Linked DNA regions of Homo sapiens: region 2 is linked to region 1. The links come from fine-mapping of genetic effects on gene expression. A gene starts in region 1. The other region holds a variant in brackets. All regions are shown on one strand. Distances are between the middles of the regions.

Region 1 (2,876 bases):
CAGCCGACCCACTGCCTGGCTCAACATGTCAGACAGGCTCCACCGCGACCGTGGGTGTCCTCAATTTTGGCGGTGCTGACAAGGGTAGATAGATTGCAGGGGTGAGTTTCAAGAATGGCTTCAGAAAGACAAAGAGTATGAATTATATTCCATAACCAGAAAAAGGCCTTGTGGCTGGAGAATGGAGAGTGAAGGATCACTTGTGAGAGATGAAACTGGTGAGATGGGCAGGTCATATAGAACCTGCTAGGCCAAGCAGGGAGTGTGGATTTTAGGTGCAATGGGAATTCACGGAGGGTTTTAGCCTGGATGTAGGGGATCATGATTTAATTTCATTTTAAAGATTTAAAGCATGATAAATCCAGGCAAAACCAAACTGATAGATCCAGGCAAAACCAAACAAGGTGAGTAGTCTGGGTGACAGGAGATGGGGCCTTCAGCTTGTGGGCTGAGTGACAAGGTCTTGATGGATTGGAGGTGAGGCAAAGGGAGGAATCAAAGTTAGCTGCAAGGTTTTTGACCTTCCAACTTAGAGAAGTTTAGCGCCGCGTTCTGAGAAAGTGAAGACTGTGGAAGGAATCGTTTGGGGAGGGAAGGCGAGCTGTCTAAGGGGGGGGGATGTGGAACATGCAGTGGGATGCTGGGGCCTGGAACGTAGGGGAGATGCAGGTTTGGAGTCACCGGTGCCTGTGTTGTTGGGCAAAGCCAGGGGAAAGGTCAGGTCGCCTTGGGATCTGGCCTAGCACTGAGTGCAGAGGAAGAGAAGCTTCTGAGATCGAGAGGCAGCGGCTACAGGAGGAGGAAGAAAGCAAGGCGGGGAAAACCAAAGTTCAGGAGAGCATTTGCAGGAGGGCGCTGCGGGGTAGGGTCTGAGTCGGAGCCCCGAATCGGACTCGAGTCCTGTCGCGTGGGGACGGAGCGTGCAGAGGCCCATGCGAGGGACAGACACAAAGGCCCTGGGAGCTGCAGGTCAGACCACTGGACAGCGCGGCCGCGGACCTAACGCCCCTGTAAGGGGTGCTCACGCTTGGGGGGAACTCTCCGAAAGAGAGGACCACTGAAAGCCACCCTGGCAGCAGGGGCGGAACAGACAGACGTGGGTCTGGCCGTCGCCAGAACTGCCTGCGGACCAGCCCCGCGCTGCCGGGGGGGCGGGACATGTCGGCTGTCCATCAGTGCCCGCGACCAATCCGCAGGCAGCCCCGCCCCCGCCCCTCCCGGGAGAGGGCGCGCGGAGGACCCGCCGCCGCCGGTGTGAGGCGGCCCGTCCTGGCTCCCTTGTCCGGGAAGCCCGCCCAGGTAACTGAGTTTGGCCGGGCATTCCCGGAGGACGCGCCATCCCCTCACGTCCCGTCCCGGTCGCTGCATGGGCGGTGTTCGGGACGCGGGGGCTGCGTCTGTGCGGGACCGCGGGGTAGCGGCCGCCCGTGCGAGTACGCCTGACTGACGCGCCGGCCGCCGGGCCTGCGGCCTGTGGGCGGGGCTGCCGTGCGTGACAGGGCCGCTCGTGGCCGCCGGGCTGTGTCCGGGGCCGCGTGAGAAAGCTCTGCGGGACTGAGGGCTGGGTGGGTCGACCGGGAACGGCGCGCGCTCCCGCCGCCATCGCGCCTCCGTCCCCGCCTGCGGCCTGTCTGGGGGTCGCGGGGCGCAGGCGCGGCGGGCCGACGGGCGGGGGTCCTCCCCACGGGTGCGCGGGCGCCTTTGTTCCCGGCGCCGAAGCGGGGTGGGGCCTCAGGGCAGCCCCGCCCCGCCGCGCTGAGGCCCCGCCCCGTGTCCGCCTGCAGGAGCCGCCGCCGGGTCCCGCTCGTCTGCCGCCTCAGCCTCAGCCCCAACCTCAGCCGCCGCCGTTGCGCTTGCTCCCGGGCGGTCCTGGCCTGTGCCGCCGCCGCCCCCAGCGTCGGAGCCATGGCGGGCGCCGCGTCCCCTTGCGCCAACGGCTGCGGGCCCGGCGCGCCCTCGGACGCCGAGGTGCTGCACCTCTGCCGCAGCCTCGAGGTGGGCACCGTCATGACTTTGTTCTACTCCAAGAAGTCGCAGCGACCCGAGCGGAAGACCTTCCAGGTCAAGCTGGAGACGCGCCAGATCACGTGGAGCCGGGGCGCCGACAAGATCGAGGGGGCCAGTAAGTGCGCCCACTTCCTGCCTGGGCCCGCCCCGCGCGGGGGTCGTGGGAGCCCGGCCCGACTGCTTGCACCCCGGCCGGCCGCCCCAGCGACTTGGGCAAACTTTCGGGCCCTCCCAGACTCCCTCCGGGCCCCGCCCCCGCTTCGTCTCGGGTGGTCACTGGGGGCGGGGGGCATCCGGGTCCTCGGTCACCTGACAGGACACCCCCCCTCCCCCAGCTGGGGGGAGTGTTCCAGGCGCTTTGCCCTGAGGCCTAAAAATCCTCGCGGGCTGGAGACCTGCGGTGCAGGCATCGGGCCCCCCAGACCCTGGGAGTGGTGGCGGCGTCGGCGAGGGGAGCTAAGGCAGTGGCCCCCACCCTGCACGGGAACCTGGGGCCTGACCAGACGGTCCCCGCCCACTCTTTATCCAGAAAGAGCAGTCTGTGAAACTCTCCGGGCCCCCAGGCTGGGCTCTTATTTGCAAAGGAATCTTTGGGTTCCCTAAGTAGAACTTAGGCAGATGTTGGGTAGGGCTGGTCTTGGAGCAGAGCTGGGCCTACTCATCTCCCTCTGGGGGAGAGGGAGGAAGGTGGTCTTGTTTGGTTTGGAGAAGCCTGAGAGAAGCCAGTGGCTGGAATTTTTTTTTTTTTTTTTCTGCTACTTTTGTCCCAAAGCTGGGTTTTGGAGGCCTATGTGGGTGGGCAGACACTCAATGCCAGGGCAGGGACTCCCCTTGCCCTGGGAAGCACGTTCCCAGGAGATGGGCCCCAT
Region 2 (2,904 bases), 160 kb after region 1:
AGAGATGGAGTTTCAACATGTTGGCCAGGCTAGTCTCGAACTCCTGACCTCAAGTGATCCATCCACCTCAGCCTCCCAAAGTGCTGGGATTACAGGCATGAGCCACTGTGCCCAGCCTTAGCAATAGTTTTTAAAACCTAAGATTTAATAAAAATCCACATTATTTATTGATTGATTTTTTGAGATGGAGTCTTGCTCTGTTGCCTAGGCTGGAGTGCAGTGACACAATCTCTGCTCACTGTAATCTCTGCCTCCTGGGTTCAGGCGATCCTCCCACCTCAGCCAGACCATACGCATGTGCCATCACACCTGGCTAATTTTTATATTTTTTGGTAGAGATAGGTTTTCAACATGTTGGCCAGACTGGTCTTGAACTCCTGACCTCAAGTGATCCATGCGCCTCGGCCTCCCAAAGCGCTGGGATTATACATAGGCATGAGCCCCTGCGCCCAGCCCACATTAATATTTTAAGTAAAAACTCTGTATTAATGACTTATTTCAATTGTACTCTTCTCTCAGCTATCCCTCAAACTACTATATTTCCAGTTCCTTGATGTAGCTTCAGAGTTGCTCATTCCACTCCCAAAATTATCCTAAAGAAATAATTCCATTTCTTCTTCCAGAAGAACAAAAGAGGGAGGGGTGGGGAAACTAGTTGCCTGAGATGCAAATAAACAATATTTATAAAGAAAAATAATACATAAAACACTTCAGTAGAATGCAATCCTTTTCATAGAATGCAGCAAGGCATAAAAAATTAAAAATATATAATAAGACAATATTTAAGGTAAACTGAGAAACTATCATATATAATTATGCAGGTTACATAGCAACATGGAAAAATGCTTACAATGACATGGGAACAATACAAACTTGTATAATTCTAGCCATATAAAATTATGCATGCATGTGATCAAAAAGTAGGAAAAAAGAAAATCCAAGAATTTTCTAGAGTATTAGAATTCCCTTTTTAAAAAATTTAAACTTTCTATTTCACTGTTGGCTGTACAATACTTTTATAATAAATTTATCAGGAGCCAGCCAGGCGCGGTGGCTCACGCCTGTAATCCCAGCACTTTGGGGAGGTCGAGGC[G/A]GGAGATCGAGACCATCCTGGCTAACATGGTGAAACCCCATCTCTACTAAAAATACAAAAAAGTTAGCCAGGCGTGGTAGCGGGCACCTGTAGTCCCAGCTACTCAGGAGGCTGAGGCAGGAGAATGGCCTGAACCCGGGAGGCGGAGCTTGCAGTGAGCCGAGATTGCGCCACTGCACTCCAGCCTGGGCGACACAACGAGACTCCGTCTCAAAAAAAAAAAAAAATTATCAGGAGCCAAAATAACTAACTCATTACAAGTGTAAGAATTTGTACATTCGCAAGAAATGAAATAGTAAAAGGTGACACACACAGTTTGATCTTCTCGTTCAGTTGGTTGTCCTTTATAATGCTATTTAAGTTCATAAACAACCAAAAAGTAAAGATAATGAGATTCATGTTATTAAAAGTGCCTAACATTTGTGGAAAGCAAAAAGGACTTTGTTCAGCAACTGCCCATGAACTTTGGGTAAAAGCAAAACTAAATTTCTGGAGTCTATTTTGCTTTTCACCTTATTTGATCTCACTTAACATCACTCATGCCAAGTTGAGTTTTTTTCCTCTTCTTTTCCCTTCTCCTCAAGTTCATAAAGTAAAAAAAAAAAAAAAAAAAAAAAAAAAAAAAAAAAAATACATGGCAGCTCTGTTACAGTCCTCACTGTTCTCCCAGCAATACTATGTATGAAATGCGGCTTTCTGGAATGGGCCACAGAGAAAGTAAGATAAGAGAAATATCCAAATACTACCTGTCACCACGGGGATCACCAGGACTGAGTTGACTTAGGGCCAAGAGATCTGAGCTCAAGTTTTCCACATCTATAACATGGAAATAATACTACTTGCCCCAAAAGGTGATGTCACAAGAAAGTCCCTAGCACATGGTGATGCTCAAGAAATGCTCATCTCATCCTTTTTTCCCCACCTTCTGCCACACACGTGCACATGAGCTCTGCCCATTCTAAAACTACAGGGGTCCTTAAGTCTACTATTTCCCAGATGCCCACTCCAACTTTCTCTACCCTGCTCTCTGTCTTGGCAGGCTAATCATTATGAATCACATCAACAGGTCCCTATGACCTTGACCTCTGATTGGGTTTAGCCAATGCTAAGTCCCAGAAAGAGATCGGGGGAGGAAGGGAGAAGCGAGGGAGGGAATAAAGTTGAGAATTCATTCTACTTGTGGCGTATGCATCCCTCAACCAAAATTCACTGCTCCTCTCAAGGTAGCCTCTTGACACTTGATAATGACAATCTCTTCTGGCTCCTGATAACTACTTTCATCCATTTTCATCCATTTGTCTCTTTGGAGCTAGGGGTAGTAACAGCTCCACCATCACTATAAACCCTGGTTCCTGCACTATCCCTTATGGTTTTCTCTACATCCTGCCCATACCTCTTGAAGTAAACTCTCTTGGAATTATCCTAAGTTGAGAATGCCAACTTTTCCTGTTGGGACTCTGACAGATAAAGTTCTGTCTATAGAATTCCAGAATCATTTATATCTTGAATCAACACAAGGAGAATGGCAGTTCTGGGGTTTCAGATTGAGATGCACATGCAGGCAGGATCTGATAATTCTAAAATACTCCCAAGTATTGATGATTCAAAACTCCCAAGGCTAGCCTGTGTTCCCCCAATAGGCCTGAGTTGGTCCCACAGCTGAGCCATTCTCCTCAGACCCCAGAGGAATAACATCAGCTTCTAAACCCTTGGGACCCTGTGAATTGACAAGAAGTTCTAGGCACCCCCATGTTTTAAATCTTCAGTCCAGCCTCAGTCAGTGAGTCCCAGTTTTATCTCAAACTAATAAA

Alleles and levels. Alleles are on the strand shown, and positions count from the first base shown. SD is a standard deviation of normalised expression in the study named.
With allele A in place of G in region 2, the expression in lymphoblastoid cells of the gene that starts at base 1,807 in region 1 is lower (moderate effect, 0.49 SD a copy in TwinsUK).

Evidence for each region. PIP is the estimated chance that this variant, and not a neighbour inherited with it, causes the effect.
Region 2: its variant is fine-mapped to the expression of PLCG1 in lymphoblastoid cells (TwinsUK, PIP 0.95).

Annotation. Positions count from the first base shown.
Region 1 is chr20:41,135,737-41,138,612 of GRCh38, forward strand. PLCG1 (phospholipase C gamma 1) reads left to right here and starts at 1,807. Exons shown (of 32, transcript NM_002660.3): 1 at 1,807-2,122. The coding sequence starts at 1,906. LOC124904903 (translation initiation factor IF-2-like) reads right to left here and starts at 1,777. Exons shown (of 2, transcript XM_047440629.1): 1 at 1-1,777. The coding sequence starts at 1,603. The coding sequence ends at 1,022. It overlaps PLCG1-AS1 (PLCG1 antisense RNA 1), which reads right to left and starts at 2,264. Exons shown (of 7, transcript NR_109889.1): 1 at 1,978-2,264; 2 at 1-75. RefSeq lists enhancers at 322-1,106, 1,891-2,675, 2,597-2,696, 2,845-2,876 and silencers at 1,077-2,066, 2,187-2,446.
Region 2 is chr20:41,294,546-41,297,449 of GRCh38, forward strand. The region is part of intron 1 of ZHX3 (zinc fingers and homeoboxes 3); the gene reads right to left. Among named protein-coding and RNA genes, the nearest start is that of ZHX3, 22 kb to the right of the region's middle. The variant G/A (reference allele first, on the strand shown) is at 1,094.